Linked DNA regions of Homo sapiens: region 1 is linked to region 2. The links come from fine-mapping of genetic effects on gene expression. A gene starts in region 2. The other region holds a variant in brackets. All regions are shown on one strand. Distances are from middle to middle. Region 1 overlaps PIWIL4-AS1 (PIWIL4 antisense RNA 1). Region 2 holds the start of AMOTL1 (angiomotin like 1).

Region 1 (8,331 bases), 120 kb before region 2:
CTTATATCTCTGCACCTTTGTGCCCCAACCCCTTCTCTGCTTTTCTGGAGGGCAAGAACTCCCCACCCCTTCTCCGTGTCTCTACTGTTTTCTCTGGGCTTGCCTCCTTTACTATGGGCAAGCTTCCACCTTCCATTCCTCCTTCTTCTCCCTTAGCCTGTGTTCTTAAGAACTTAAAACCTCTTCAACTCTCACCTGACCTAAAATCTAAGCATCTTATTTTCTTCTGCAATGCCGCTTGACCCCAATACAAACTCGACAGTAGTTCCAAATAGCCAGAAAATGGCACTTTCAATTTTTCCATCCTACAAGATCTAAATAATTCTTGTCATAAAATGGGCAAATGGTCTGAGGTGCCTGACATCCAGGCATTCTTTTACACGTCGGTCCCTCTCTAGTCTCTGTTCCCAATGCAACTCATCCCAAATCTTCCTTCTTTCCCTCCCACCTGTCCCCTCAGTCCCAACCCCAAGCGTCACTGAGTCTTTCTAATCTTCCTTTTCTACAGACCCATCTGACCTCTCCCCTCCTCCCCAGGCTGCTCCTCGCCAGGCCGAGCTAGATCCCAATTCTTCCTCAGCCTCCGCTCCTCCACCCTATAATCCTTTTATCACCTCCCCTCCTCACACCCGCTCTGGCTTAGTTGGTCTGGCTTAGTTTCATTCCGTGACTAGCCCTCCCCTACCTGCCCAGCAATTTGCTCTTAAAAAGGTGACTAGAGCTAAAGGCATAGTCAAGGTTTAATGCTCCTTTTTCTTTATCCCAAATCAGATAACATTTAGGCTCTTTTTCATCAAATATAAAAAACCCAGCCCAGTTCATGGCTCGTTCGGCAGCAACCCTGAGACGCTTTACAGCCCTACACCCTAAAAGGTCAAAAGGCCGTCCTATTCTCAATATACATTTTATTACCCAATCTGCTCCCGACATTAAATAAAACTCCAAAAATTAAATTCTGGCCCTCAAACCCCACACCAGGATTTAATTAACCTCGCCTTCAAGGTGTACAACAATAGAAAAAAGTTGCAATTCCTTGTCTCCACTGTGAGACAAACCCCAGCCACATCTCCAGCACACAAGAACTTCCAAACGCCTGAACCGCAGCGGCCAGGCGTTCCTCCAGAACCTCCTCCCCAGGAGCTCGCTACAAGTGCCAGAAATCTGACCACCAAGCCAAGGAATGCCTGCAGCCCAGGATTCCTCCTAAGCCGTGTCCCATCTGTGCAGGACCCCACTGGAAATCGGACTGTTCAACTCACCTGGCAGCCACTCACAGAGCCCGTGGAACTCTGGCCCAAGGCTCTCTGACTCCTTCTCGGCTTAGCGGCTAAAGACTGACACTGCCCGATCGCCTCGGAAGCCCCGTAGACCATCACGGACGCCGAGCTTTAGGTAACTCTCACAGTGGAGGGTAAGTCCGTCCCCTTCTTAATCAATACGGAGGCTACCCACTCCACATTACCTTCTTTTCAAGGGCCTGTTTCCGTTGCCTCCATAACTGTTGTGGGTATTGACAGCCAAGCTTCTAAACCTCTTAAAACTCCCCAACTCTGGTGCTAACTTAGACAATACTCTTTTAAGCACTCCTTTTTAGTTATCCCCACCTGCCCAGTTCCCTTATTAGGCCGAGACACTTTAACTAAATTATCTGCTTCCCTGACTATTCCTGGATTACAGCTACATCTCATTGCCACCCTTCTTCCCAATCCAAAGCCTCCTTTGCGTCCTCTTCTTGTATTCCCCCACCTTAACCCACAAGTATAAGATACCTCTACTCCCTCCTTGGCGACCGATCATGCACCCCTTACCATCTCAGTAAAACCTAATCACCCTTACCCCGCTCAATGCCAATATCCCATCCCATAGCATGCTTTGAAAGGATTAAAGCCTGCTATCACTCGCCTGCTATAGCATGGCCTTTTAAAGCCTATAAACTCTCCTTACAATTCCCCCATTTTACCTGTCCTAAAACCAGACAAACCTGACAAGTTAGTTCAGGATCTGTGCCTTATCAACCAAATTGTTTTGCCTATCCACCCCATGGTGCCAAACCCATATACTCTCCTATCCTCAATACCTCCCTCCACAATCCATTATTCTGTTCTGGATCTCAAACATGCTTTATTTACTATTCCTTTGCACCCGTCATCCCATCCTCTCTTCGCTTTCACTTGGACTGACCCTGACACCCATTAGGCTCAGCAAATTACGTGGGCTGTACTGCCGCAAGGCTTCACAGACAGCCCCCATTACTTCAGTCAAGCCCAAATTTCATCCTCATCTGTTACCTATCTCGGCATAATTCTCATAAAAACACACGTGCTCTCCCTGCTGATCGTGTCCGATTAATCTCCCAAACCTCAATCCCTTACAAAACAACAACTCCTTTCCTTCCTAGGCATGGTTAGTGTGGTCAGAATTCTTACACAAGAGCCAGGACCGCACCCTGTAGCCTTTCTGTGCAAACAACTTGACCTTACTGTTTTAGCCTAGCCCTCATGTCTCCGTGCAGCGGCTGCTGCTGCCCTAATACTTTTAGAGGCCCTCAAAATCACAAACTATGCTCAACTTATTCTCTACATTTCTTATAACTTCCAAAATCTATTTTCTTCCTCATACCTGACGCATATACTTTCTGCTCCCTGGATCCTTCAGCTGTACTCACTCTTTGTTAAGTCCCAAAATTACCATTGTTCCTGGCCCAGACTTCAATCCGGCCTCCCACATTATTCCTGATACCACACCTGACCCACATGACTGTATCTCTTTGATCCACCTAACATTCACCCCATTTCCTCATATTTCCTTCTTTCCTGTTCCTCATCCTGATCACGCTTGATTTATTGATGGCGGTTCCACCAGGCATAATCACCACACACCAGCAAAGGCAGGCTATGCTATAGTACAAGCCACTAGCCCGCCTCTTAGAACCTCTCATTTCCTTTCCATCGTGGAAATCTGTCCTCAAGGAAATAACTTCTCAGTGTTCCATCTGCTGTTCTACTACTCCTCAGGGATTATTCAGGCCCCCTCCCTTCCCTACACATCAAGCTCGAGGATTTGCCCCCACCCACGACTGGCAAATTAGCTTTACTCAACATGCCCTGAGTCAGATAACTAAAATACCTCTTAGTCTAGGTAGACAGTTTCACTGGATAGGTAGAGGCCTTTCCTACAGGGTCTGAGAAGGCCAGCACAGTCATTTCTTCCCTTCTATCAGACATAATTCCTCAGTTTAGCCTTCCCACCCCTATACAGTCTGATAACAGACCAGCCTTTATTACTCAAATCAGCCAAGCAGTTTTTCAGGCTCTTAGTATTCAGTGAAACCTTTATATCCCTTACAGTCCTCCGTCTTCAGGAAAAGTAGAACAGACTAAAGGTCTCTTAAAAACACACCTCACCAAGCTCAGCCACCAACTTAAAAAGGACTGGACAATACTTGTACCACTTTCCCTTCTCAGAGGTCAGACCTGTCCTCAGAATGCTACAGGGTACAGCCCATTTGAGCTCCTGTATAGATGCTCCTTTTTATTAGGCCCCAGTCTCATTCCAGACACCAGACCAACTTAGACTGTGCCCCCAAAAAACTTGTCATCCCTACTATCTTCTGTCTAGTCATACTCCTATTCACCATTCTCAACTACTCATACATGCCCTGCTCTTGTTTACACTGCCAGTTTACACTGTTTCTCCAAGCCATCACAGCTGATATCTCCTGGTGCTATCCCCAAACCACCACTCTTAACTCTTAAAGTGAATAAATAATCTTTACTGGCAAGGCTATGCTGAACCTCCTTAGGCACTCTCTAATTAGATGTCCTGGGTCCTCCCAATTCTTAGTCCTTTAATACCTGTTTTTCTTCTTCTCTTATTCCGTTTAGTTTTTAATTTATACAAAACTGTATCCAGGCCATCACTAATAATTCTAAATGACAAATGTTTCTTCTAACAACCCCACAATATCACCCCTTACCACAGAATCTTCCTTCACCTTAATCTCTTCCACTCTAGGTTCCCAAGCTGCCCCTAATCCCGCTCAAAGCAGCCCTGAGAAACATCGCCCATTATCTCTCCATACCATCCCCAAAAATTTTCGCCATCCCAACACTTTACCACTATTTCGCTTTATTTTTCTTATTAATATAAGAAGACAGGAATGTCAGGCCTCTGAGCCCAAGCTGAGCCATCATGTCCCCTGTGACTTGCATGTACACATCCAGATGGCCAGTTCCTGCCTTAACTGATGACATTCCACCACAAAAGAAGTGAAAATGGCCTGTTCCTGCCTTAACTGATGACATTGTCTTGTGAAATTCCTTCTCCTGGCTCATCCTGGCTCAAAAACTCCCCCACTGAGTACCTTGTGACCCCCACTCCTGCCCGCCAGAGAACAACCCCCTTTGACTGTAATTTTCCTTTACCTACCCAAATCTTATAAAACGGCCCCACCCCTATCTGCCTTTGCTGACTCTCTTTTCGGACTCAGCCCGCGTGCACCCAGGTGATTAAAAGCTTTATTGCTCACACAAAGCCTGTTTGGTGGTCTCTTTACATGGACGCACATGAAAATCATCATTCCTGTTTTACAGATGAAGAAACTGAGGTCCAGAGAAGTTAAACGACCTTCCTAAGATTACACAGCTTAGTAAGTGGCAGAACCACAGCTGGAAGCCAGGTCCTTCCTCACGCAAGTCCTGGCTCATTCATTCCTCTTCCAAAGACTTGCTGAGCACCTTCTAGGTGCCAGATGCGGTGCTGGCTCCTGGGGACATGGGAGTGAACAGGCCAGGCGTGGCCCTGAACCATCAAATAGACAACCACAGAAATAACAACGTGAGTTAAAATGAGATTATGAAGAAGAGACACAGGTTTCTACAATGGTTTAGTAGAGGGATCTCTAACCAAGTTTGGAGAGTTGAGAA[A/G]GTCTCTATGAGGCAGTCACATCCATGTAAGCTAAGATCTGAAAGACAAAAGTTGTTATCCAGGAGAGTGGCAGCAGGGAGAGCATTCCAGATGCAGGGAATAGCTTGGCACGTTTGTGGAAGAGAAAAATCTGTTAACGTGATTGTAGGGTAGGGTGGAAAAAAGGAGAAATGGAGCAAGATGAGGCTAGGGAGGCAGGCAGGGACCAGACTACGAACTGCCTTAAAGCTCTGCTTAAAAATGTTTGCCACGATTTGAAGAGTAATGGGAAGCCTTGAAGGTTTTTAACCAGAAGAGTCTTATATTTAGATTTGTTATTTTTTAAATATCACACTGGCTGCTGTTTAGGAATGATGCTGGAGGCTGACGAAGATAAGGGTGGAAAGTGGGCAATAAATCAGGAGCTGTTGCAACATTCCCAGCAAAGGATAATGGTGAATGTAATGGCAATGGGGATTTGGGGAAGCAGGGGGGCCTCGTGGCTGATTGGATGTGGTGTTGGTGAGGGAGGAGGGGTCACAGATTTCCATCCTCCCATGGGTGTTTCTATCTCCCAGGCTAGGCTTCTTGTGTTTGCTTTCCTTCTTGCAGAACAAAGACAAAACCGGGCCCTTCCACACAGTAGCTGGAACACAAAGGAAGATCAGCCAAGCCTCAACATAATCTCATAAAAATTCTTCAAATATCCCATTGTTATGGATTCATACATCAGGAAAGCAGGTAAAATATTTCACCTTGATGCTCACCTAGATGGTCAGACTCTTTGAGGAAGACATCAAACTTTTCCCCAGAAAGAAAAAATAAATAACTTTTTAGACTATACAAAAGGGTCAATGTCATGTTACATAAGATGCTCAAACTCCTGTCTTGATGTTAAGTCCACTGGTCTTACCACAGCTTCTGAACACCAAGACTGCTGCTGTGACAGTGACAAGAGAATTATTTAGAATTAAAAAACAATTGTCCTTACATTTTCTCCTCAAAATTCTAGGGGAGAAAGAGCTTCCAAGTAAGCAGAGCCAAGGCACTATTGAGAGTGACAGACTGGAAAGAAAGGAATTAAGTGGCCTTTAGCTCCTGTCTGTTGGAGAGTGGTGTAGTAGAAAATACTTAGGCTTTGGAATCTGAGCTGGGTTCAGATCCTGCTTCTCTCATTTACTAGCTGCATGTAGATGAGTATCTTAAATTGCTTTTTCTGTGTCACAAATGACAATTTAAAAAACCTCTATCTCACAGGTTATTATAAAAAGTAAGACACGCATTCAAGGGTAGCATAGTACTAGGCACAGAGGAAGAACATTCAACAGGTGTGAGAGACAATGTTGTCAATATGCTATATGCAAGGAAAAATGTTTTTAGGTATTTTTTGACTCTTTGATGCTGAATGGAAAATTCTTCACTGTCATTAGCAATAATGGAGAAGATAATTTCAGTTTGCAATTGGAGGCTCATAAAACAAGTAACTGGATTTTCAGAAAAGTTAAGTATTTGTTGAATCTATAATGCACTAATCGTTTTGTAAGGTGATGTGAGATACTTAAAGAGGCATTAAGATACAAACATAGAGACTAGTGGGTGAGACATAAAAGCAAAGACCTAGGAGAAGGAAGCTCATCTAGGAAAGGAAGCTCCTTAGATCTAGCTTGGCTGAGTTGCAAGCCAGACTGGAGAAGGTAAGTGCTCTCAGAAACAGGAATTGCTGTCTGGCAGGGCCTGAATGATAAGATCTACTCTTCCCCTGTCCAAATGCAACCCCTAAAAGCCAGTTCAGAATAAATAAGGAAGAATATTTTTTTCAGAGCAATTAAGAGTCATTATGAAGTAGGTCAGAATAAAATATGGCAGCTTCAGGCTGTGTGCGATTACTGCTCTGATATTTATCTGCAAAGCAGGAGTCATTTATCCTATTCTAAAATAAATAACTCGGCCAGGCATGGTGGCTCATGCCTGTAATCCCAGCACTTTTGGAGGCCAAGGCAGGTGGATCACCTGAGATCAGAAGTTCGAGACCAGCCTGGCCAACATGGTAAAACCCTGTCTCTACTAAAAATACAAAAATTAGCCAGGCATGGTGGTGGGGATCTGTAATTCCAGCTACTCGGGAGGCTGAGGCAGGAGAATTGCTTAAACCCAGGAGGTGGAGGTTGCAATGAGCCGAGATTGTGCCACTGCACTCCAGCCTGGGTGACAGAGCAAGACTGTGTCTCAAAAAATAAATATATAAATAAATAAAATAAATAACTCAATGAGTTTTCAAAAACAACCAAAAAATCAGCTTGAGAAATAGTTTTCAGACAAACTTAGCCTGAGTAGACCCACCCTGAGAGATTTGAGGGCTCTACTGAGGCAGGAGACTAGGGCCTGGAGGCAGGGAACATAAAGCCAATCCACACTGACTTTACTAAATCAAATGAAAGCACCTTAGCAATGACAGGAATGTGAATGGTTTTGTAAATTCCCTTCATCCTCTCCATTCATACCATTTCCACTTTGTAACTTCACTTTCATCCTCTCCATTTACATAGATCACACACCAACTAACATCCTCTCCATTTACAGTAGGGCACATTCTGAGTAAATGACTCTGTGACTTCACTTTATTCACTTCATTTACATAGAATATTCACCAAGTGACCAACGGGAAACCTCTAGAGCATTAAAACCCCAGAAAATTCTGTAAGCCGGGCTCTTGAGCCTCTATGATTGGGCTGTTCCCACACTGTGGCGTGTACTTTTATTCTCAATAAATCCCTGCTTTTGCTTTCCTTGCCTCATTTGTGCATTTTGTCAACTTCTTCATTTGAGATGCCAAGAACCTGAACACCTTCTACTGGTAACATATATTTTGGCGAGCCAGCCTGGAGACAAGGTAGGCCCAAAGTTTGGGATTTATTTTTCTTTCCCCTTTTACATACAGGGAAACCTTTTTCTCTCTCTTTTTCCTTTCCAACTTGGGACCCTCCGTGATCAGCGCCTAAACATAGAGACAACTGCAAGTTTCCAGCCAGGGCCACTCTCTGGTGAAACCTACAGGTTTCCATGTGACGCATCTGACCACCACCACCCGGCTGGGTGGGCAACCTGAGTCCTTTTCCTTGGTTTTGTTTTTCTGAGTCCTATTCCTTTCTCCCTTTTACTGAGTTATTTTTCTTTTTCCTGTTTCGGTCTTTCAGCTACTCCTAGTAGCTCCCGGTTAATTGAGGACAGCTGGCCGGGGCCACTCTCGGGTGCCTTCTGAAGGCCAAGAAACGAAAAGGGATGGCTGCCCTGCCCAGAAGGGGGAAGGACTTTTTTCTATCTCTCCGGTTAGAGTTCCTCATCCCAACATGTGACGCAATTGCTGTGGCAGCTCATCCAGGGTGAACTCACACATGTTTCAGACAACTTAAACCTTCTTTCCTCATG
Region 2 (8,331 bases):
CAGCACCTGGATTTCTTGGAACTTGCCCGTTTTTTTCCTGTGCATCATTCCTCTATGCTCCCATAATGCTTTGTGTCTAATCTCTAGTGTGTTCACCATCATTTTTTATCTTTAGCATACTACACTCTGATGTAGTAAATACTTCTGAAAGTGAATTGCAGGAGCACTGACTAACCCCAGTGAGCCAGCTGGAAACCTCAATGTGCTAGGAGTCATTTCGAGTGGATTCTAGGACTGCACCTTTAGAGATTCAGAAATTTGGAGGTGGAACATGAGGAGTTTAAATTTTTACATGCTTTGGTTTCATAAGTTACACTTCAGAAAGTGCTTGAAATTGAACTTAAAAAATATCCTTACTTGTTCTAGGAGCAAAACAAGCATTTTGATCAAAGCAGCCTGGGTGCATCAAATCATTGGTTTGTTCATTCAACAGTCATTAATGGAGAACTACCAGTTGTAGCGATGGTCCCAGGTGAGGCTGTGTGTAGTAGCTGTTCCTTACGTAGTCATGTTCATCCACTCTTCTTTTGCTGTTTGGCTTCTCTGTCTTTGCAAGCCCAAGCCCATTCTTAGGGCCCATTCAGTGAAAGTATTAGCTGGTAAAGACTTTAAATGTTTGTCAAGAAGGGGTGCTGAGAAAAGTGAGAGGAGAAAGACATTTGCATTTTAATAGAGTATTTAAATTCCTTGGTATTTCAAATTACTGGAGAAGAGGAGGGTTTCTAACTTTTACTGAATTCCTAGATGTGCCCAGCACTTGACCTGTATTATCTCATTTAACCCTTGCAATAAGTTTATGAGGCAAATGTTATTATTTTATAGAGGAGGAAGCTGAGGCTCTCCGTGTCTAGAAATAGATAGAACATGGACTAGAAGCAGGTCTTACTGTAAAGGCCCTGCTCATTCTCCTCTATCCAGATGCCTCTGTTACTTCAACATTCTTCCCGCCTCTATGCTTGTTGGGAACAGCTTGGTATCACTGGAACATCCTGGTACTCGTCCTGTTTTGAGTGAAAGACTGCTCTCTGGGCTGCCCCAAAGAGCACTAAAATTGGCCCATCATCTTCTTAGCTTTCTTAGGAATGAGTAAATGACAACTTGGGTCACTTTAGAAAGGATGCTGACCTTTAGGATGAGTGCATAGATCTAAAGAAGGCACAGATGTGGACTGGTTCACTACCTTGCTGTTAGTGAAGGTGTGTTCAATTTTTATTGTAAACATACTTTGTTTCCATTAGACACAAACCAGACATCAGAATCTCCAGCCAAGTGTGCTTACTGAAAGATGTTATTGATAACTTCTTGCTAGTGAAATTCAGAGTCTTTTTTTGCAGGCCTTAGTTCCTGAACAATAGATTCAGGAACTAAGTTAAGGCCTGAAAAGATTGTTTTCTGCATTTGATGTAGAGCTTATTCACAGATAAGGAAATTAAGGCACAGGAGGGAAACATTGGTCTCCAGCAGTGTTTTCTGCCTGTGCTTCCATGTATCTGATTACTGGGTATTAATTTGAGGAGTCTAGGCTAGGTCCACCTGATTGAATCAGAAGATCCTTGAACCCACAAGCTGTGCCTAGCACTTCATTGCAGGTCTAAGAATCTGTAGCATTTGATAGAAGGACCCACTTCTTAAAACTTCCTCTGGCTTCCATGCCTTTACCTTTTCCCAGCTCTTCTACTTCTCCAGATTCTTCCTCTTCTCCCTCCTTCTTTCCCTGTTTTCCAGTTGTGGACATTCTGTTAATGAACTGATCTTCAAAGCTTCATCTCTCCTTTTCTCTACACCTCTGTCCTCCACTTCTCACCCAGTCCCTTGTTCCTTGTTTCCTCTTGCCCAGAGGATAGTAAGTCACTCAGCATCTTTCTCAAACCGTTTCCTCTTCTCAACTGTGCTTCATCTGTCATTGGTCTAATGATCCATTCTTCTAAGACTGCAAGATCTATTCTTCCTATGACTGGGCTCAAAGCCTAGGTTAACTTGATTACTTTGTCCTTTTCCCCAGGATAAACAACGAGTCAATGAGAAGAATAAAATCTTGCTTCAAAGATTTGATACCTTTCTTTATGACATCTGGTATCTCCAAAGATATGGTATCTCTCATTTCCTTTTTATCACCTCTGTCAACCTCACCTATCATTGCTTCCTGCAACTATCCTAGATAGTCTCTTGAAATAATAATAGCAAATGTATATTGAATACTACATGCATTGTGCTGAGTATTTTACATTTGTTATTTTATTCAGTCTTCACAACCACTCTGTGAGATGCTATTTTCTTCATCTTGCCAAAAAGGATACTGAGGTTTAGAGAAGTTAGGCAACTTGCTCAGCGTCACACAGATACTGAATGGTGGAGCTGCAACTCAGCTCATGCCTGTTTTGTTCTAAACTTGATGGTTGTAACTTGGAAATTTTGCTGCTTCCTAGACTATAGGATGGTATCTAGGAGTGGGCAATTAGTAAAGATTAGTTTCCTTTCTTCTTTTTCTATCCATCACTTCTTCCCCAATTTGTATTAAATTCGCGCAAATGTTAGGTGAATCAGTGGTCCCTTCACTGTCCATAAGATAACCACTTCAGCTCCTAATTTGCGATTCAGGGTTCACAATGTGTAATACAAGGCACATTGAGGCAGAGGTTGTTTCTATACCTGGCTTTGCTACTAAACTTGTTCTGTAACATTGGACAAGTCATTCAACAGCTATGCCTGAGCTTCTTCATCCGGCAAGTGAAAGGTTTAGTTGACACTTTCTTAGATTCTTTCCAGGCCTACATTTTTGTGACGTTGTTATTCTGCCTTCCCTTGTTTTCTCCTCGTTTCTGGTAAAAACGCTTTCCTCTATGCCTTCTTCCCAAGCACCCAGACCTTGTCATCTCCCTCTTGGCTTTTGCCTCTGCTTGCCCAGTGCTGCCTTTTCCTCTTTCTGCTGTGTCTGAACTCCACCACCCTCCCAGGCTTTTCCTTCTGTGTAGTCAGTGCCTCTCTCCGCCCTTCCCAGGCATCTGCAGTACTTGGATCTCCTGCTTTGTTGCTTGCCTGTTTTCTGTTCACACATCTTGTCTTCTTAGACAGATAACAGATCCTTGAAGGGCTGGTCAGCTGCTCTAAGTTTCTTTTGTGTGCTAAGTTTCTTTTGTGTGTACCAGGGTAGATGACTTTAAATGGAGTAGGCATTTCATAAATAATTGTTAAATGATTACATTTGGGCTTTATCTTGAGAGCAGAGTTTACTCAGTAGGAGGGCCCATCAGGGGAATCAGAATCAGGACATGCAACCCACCAGAACTGATGAGAGGTAAAACTGCTGGCAGTCTAGTTAGGGAACTGCCACAATCCAGGGAGGAGTCCCTGAAGGCCGGACCTAGATAGCAGGTAAACAGAGGCAGGGAGCACCAGATAAGAGAGGCTTGGTGTGCGCTAACTCTCCCACTAACATCCTGGGCAGCAACTGTACAGTTACCTAGCTTTCTCTTCTCCAAGCAGTAGAGCTGCCCGGAAAAAGCCAGGCAGAAGTGCTATGGGGCAGGCTCGGGCACCCCAGATTAGGGCTCCAGAGAGCCGCCAGTATAAACCAATATAATGAGGTGGATGAGTAGTTCTCAGCACAGCCTGATTTTAAGAGGTGGGGCAACATTTTCCCAGAGTCGCTTACTTTCTTTACCTCTACTCAGGCAGATAACAGCCTGGGGATTTATGGCCAGAGGATGTACGGTTCTGCGAACACATTTAATATCCGAGGCTGTCAGGTCTGTTTTGGCCCTTCTGTTTGTCAACGGAGCACATAGTAGCAGCTTATCGCCCAATCTCAAGTGCGTGATGGAAGCACTGGGGCCTGGGGAATGCTGAGAAAAGTGTGGCCACTTTCTACCTGGAAATTCCACTTAAGAAGAAAAAAAACCAACCTAAGCAAATCTAGACTTTTGGGCAGATCCGGAAACAGAATTTTGGCCGGCATTGGGCTGGTGGGGAAGGAAGACAAAGTGGAGGGAGAACTGGTGAGTCTGAAATTAATCAAAACCCGGCAGGGGACAAAGGAAGGGATGCTGTCGCCCTCCTAAGTCTCAGGGAGACACGTCAGCTTGAGCTCTGGGCAATTTCAGCCTGGCAGTCTCGCGGCCCGGGGAGGGGCGGCGGGTGTCTGCAGACGGGCTCTAGGGCCCAGCGGCCGGGCGCCACGGCGGGGGTGGAGTGTAGGGTTCTAGTGACGAGCCCGGGCGACCCTCCCCGGCCCGCGCGCGGGGAGCGGGGAGCGCGGACGGCGGCGGGAGCGCGCGAGAAGCTCTAGGACCCAGCAGCGGTTGTCGGGTTTGGGGCTGGAGGTGAAGCCCTGTGTGAATGGGGTTGATTGTCCGGCGCCACTTCCCCGCGCTGCCCGGCAGCCGTCTTCCCCAGCCGAGGGACTGAACTAGCCATGATCGCCTCATGTGGAGGGCAAAGTTGCGCCGGGGAACTTGTGAGCCTGCGGTGAAAGGTAACCAGCCCCCACTCGAGGTGCCGGGAGGGCGTCTCCGAGTCTCCCACGCGAAGAACCCAGTCGCCCCGGGCTCCCCGGGCCCCTGCTGCTCACGGAAGGGGGCAGCTTCTGGGGGCCCGGGGCTGAGATCCCAGATTGTTGTTTTTAAGCGGGTTCCCTTGCCCCGCTCCAGGTCCAGTTGCCTGCGGGCCGGGCCTCAGCGTCTTGCCGCCCCGCGACCCACGTTGACTGAAGTTGTGGCCCCGGGGTTTGGGCCCCGGGGTGCTGCGCGCCCGACGCGGGGCTGGCCTTTCCTGAGGGGCGCAGCCATATGGCCAGACACTCCGAGGCGCGCCCGCGCCCGCGCGCGGGTCTCGCGGCGAGGGAGGGGACGGAAGGGGGTGTCCGGTGCAGCTTTCCCCGGCGCGAGACAAAGGCGCGCGCACCGGCCCGCCCGACGGGCTCTGGCGCTGTGGACTGGACCCTTTCTGCCCGCCGGCCAGACCCGGCTCTGGCGGGTGGGGGCGACGAAAGGGTCGCACCCCAGCCCCAGACGCTCGGATCGCGTTAGCTGCTGCTCCTTCTTTGTTCTCTCCCCAGACAAGTTTCTTTGACAAACTGGAGAGTTACATCCAGCTCCCGCTTGCCTGTTAGGGCTGCCTTTACAATAATCTGCTTTCGCGGGGAGAAAATTTAAACTTTCCAAATGGAACTGTTTTTTCTTGGAATGTGACATTTGTGGCAGGAGGGAGAGTGGTACGTTGGCCGATGACAGCCGAGCGGAACGGTGGCCTAGTGCCGGGACAGGGACCGAGCGTGCCCCATAGGCGGCCGGGCTGGAGGACGCGGCGGCAGAGCAGACGAGCCCTGGCGCGCACCTCTAGGGCCTCCGCTACCTGGACTGCGCTCGCGGCGACGTGTCCAAGTTTCCCCCCTCAGAGCCCCAGGCCGAGAATCCCGGGTATCTGCGCAAAGCTCCCGCGCCTCGCCCACCCTACTCTTCCTATCTTTACTGATGACTAGGAAGACTTTCCTTTTCCATTTTTGTTCGAAGATTTTTGCCTTTTTGGCTTCGGTGTTGGTTTCCTGTCTCCGCGTGGCAAATACCTTTTGGCCGGGCTAGCGTGTGGATCACCTGGACTGGGGTTTCAGAGGTGGGCCCTGAGCGTGCGGCCTCCTGAGACGATGCGGTTTGGACCCAACATTTTGTCCCCATGGTCCCTCAGCTCCCTTTCTCTGTGAGGCCTTGGTTTCCCATTTTCTTCTCCTGAGGCATGTTATGAGAACTGAGTTTTTGTACTGCTTATAGAAGGCCTTGGTGGTGGTGGGGTACGTGGTCTCGAGAGCCAGTTGTGATACCTCGAAGATGCTTTCGGCTAACCAAAGCAGTAACGTGCTAACCTGCTCACCATAAACGAATTAAACCAGAATAGAGGGCTATTAATAGCTACAGTTCCAGAAAATTTCCTTCCTTTTCGGGAAGCAAAAAGTCAAGGCTTGAAATATTAAACAATCATGGCTCCCTGCTTCCAAAACTGGCCTATGGGTCACTGCCAAACTGGCTAAGATTTCCCCTGGCTGCATACCACTCCTGGGCCCGGGCAGCTGTGGAAGTCAGACCCAGGTTAACGATTAAGGAGCTCTCTAGATTGCAAGGTCTTAAAGAATCTAGAGCAACTGACATTTACTTCCTAGTAAGGTGCTCTGAGCCTTATAGTGTGTATCTACTTTGAAGGCTCTTTATGAGAATAATGTGGGAACAGTAGTTTAATATACTTTGAACTGTTAGTAAAGGGTGGAAAAGCACTGATTTGACTAGAATGAAGGAAAACACCGATTCGACCAGAATGAAAAGGGTAGGACATAGGTAGAAGGCTTTATACAGGCTCTACTTTTCCTTATGATGGTGGTGGGGGTTGGGGGGAGGGATGAGGATGTTTAGTTCTTGGAGTGCACTTTTGTTTTTCTGTGATGCATTTTTCAAGATAAATAAGGAAACCTTTGTAAACCTGCAGGTGGATAGGAGAGAAGGTGCTGTACCTGTAACGCCCCTTTCCCTCCCCCTTCTTTTTAAAATGCACAGAAGTCTTGGTCTTTCAGGTTCTTTGCAGATGATGGAGGATGTAGCATACTAATTTTCCAAAGGGCATGTGGAGATCAAAGCATTTAAAAATACATCTTTTCACGGAGGCTAATGGAGGATTTTCAGTTTAAATGAGATTTTAAAGTGCTGTCGTTAAGAAAAACACATGAATGCAGAAATGTGAGTGATTTTATGGGAAAGCACTCCGCTGATCAGACTTGAGAGTGTCTGCCCTGGGCCAGTTAGTCTAGAGGCTGTTGTGGGTAGAGCTCAGCTTTTCTGATGTCTACCCCTAAGGAAAAGTGTGGACCCAGGGCCTAGGGAAAAGATGGCTGAACTAATTGAAATGAGCAGTCTGGCTGGTGAGAGTTCTGTTGAAAGGTATAGCCTCTAGGTATCAGTGCTGCATTTCTTCATAGTAATTTGTGAAAATGCTTTGAAAATGATAAAACAAAGACTTTTGAAAAAAATAATTAATGACATGAAATGGGAATTGCTAGTGAAAATTGTAAAAGTTTGATTTTTCAGGCCAATAAATTAAAAAGAAGTAACTTTATAGGACCTGCTAATATTTCTGATATATAAAATTCCCCCAAAGTAACCTTTTCTATTTTCTTTTCTTTTTGGCGGGGTTGGGGGGGGGGTGCGGTGTGTGGCTATCTGCATTTTAAATGCATAAGGAAGCTCAGGTCAGAAAATTCTGCAGTGTTTTGAATAATTTTTCTCCTATTTTTCATTAATTTTGGCAGGTTCTTATGACTCAGAATTTAGTAGGTAATAAAATCCTCGAAAAGCAAGGGGTAGTGTGGAGGTCAAGTAAAGGGAGATATTTGATTACAAGGTTTGTTGGAAATAGTCTGAGGTTGTTGTGGTTTTATGTTTTGTTTTGTTTTTTTGTTTGCCTAGTGATTTTTTTAAAGTTAATTTTGTTGGCTTGGCTTTGTTTTGTCTTGAAGGAGAGGTACAATGTAAATCTTGGCCATTGTGGGTAGGGCAGTCCTCTACTTTTGCTGGAAGGAAGCCACTCCTGCTCTTGGTTTATGTGTTGGCATCAAGCTGAGTTCTACTTTAACTTGTGAGGCCCTTGGCTCTGCTCTCACGGCCAGGCCTTGTGTAACCTTAGGGTATATTCATTTTGGACACTCAGGACAGGACTCCTGGACTCCTAAAGGGGCTCACACATCAGGCATTTTCCCCCCATCTTTTAGGAGAGAGTAGGAGAGTAGCTCTAAGGTGTTGGAAATGTATCCCTGTTAAGATACTGAAGAATTAGATTTAAGTTTTCAAAAACTGTCGTTCTATGGTGTGTGTTTAAACCTGTGTTTGAGACCTCACTGGCCAATATTGCAGCTATATACCTCTATTTTTTCATTTTGTTTTTAAGTAAAATGTCTGCTGTTTACTTTTAACTTTTCGTTTTGAAATGATCATAGCTTCATAGGAAGTTGCAAAAATAGTAGAGAGGTCCTGTGTACCCTTCACCCAGTTTCCCCCATTGGTAACATCTTACATAACCATAGTACAGTAGCAGAACCAGGAAATTGACATTGGTACAGTCCACAGAGCATATTCAGATTTCACCAGTTTTACATGCACATGTAAAATTTGTATTTCTATGTGTGTACTTCTATGCATTTTTTCATGTGTAGATTCATGTAACCGCTACCACAATCAAGGTACAGACTATTTTATTACCCCAATGATCTCCCTTATGCTACACCTCTATAGTTGCACTGGCCCTCTTCTCCCCATCCTCACTCTGTTGCTAAATGCTTAGCAACCACTACTCCTGTTC

Evidence for each region. PIP is the estimated chance that this variant, and not a neighbour inherited with it, causes the effect.
Region 1: its variant is fine-mapped to the expression of AMOTL1 in whole blood (TOPMed, PIP above 0.99).

Annotation. Positions count from the first base shown.
Region 1 is chr11:94,642,743-94,651,073 of GRCh38, forward strand. All of the region lies in intron 4 of PIWIL4-AS1 (PIWIL4 antisense RNA 1), which reads right to left. LINC02700 (long intergenic non-protein coding RNA 2700) reads left to right here. Exons shown (of 6, transcript NR_187352.1): 2 at 1,228-1,411; 3 at 4,593-4,836; 4 at 5,518-5,646; 5 at 7,732-7,795. Among named protein-coding and RNA genes, the nearest start is that of LINC02700, 8.9 kb to the left of the region's middle. RefSeq lists enhancers at 3,878-4,611, 7,031-7,606. The variant A/G (reference allele first, on the strand shown) is at 4,926.
Region 2 is chr11:94,764,090-94,772,420 of GRCh38, forward strand. It overlaps AMOTL1 (angiomotin like 1), which reads left to right and starts at 4,267. Exons shown (of 13, transcript NM_130847.3): 1 at 4,267-4,471. The coding sequence starts at 4,423.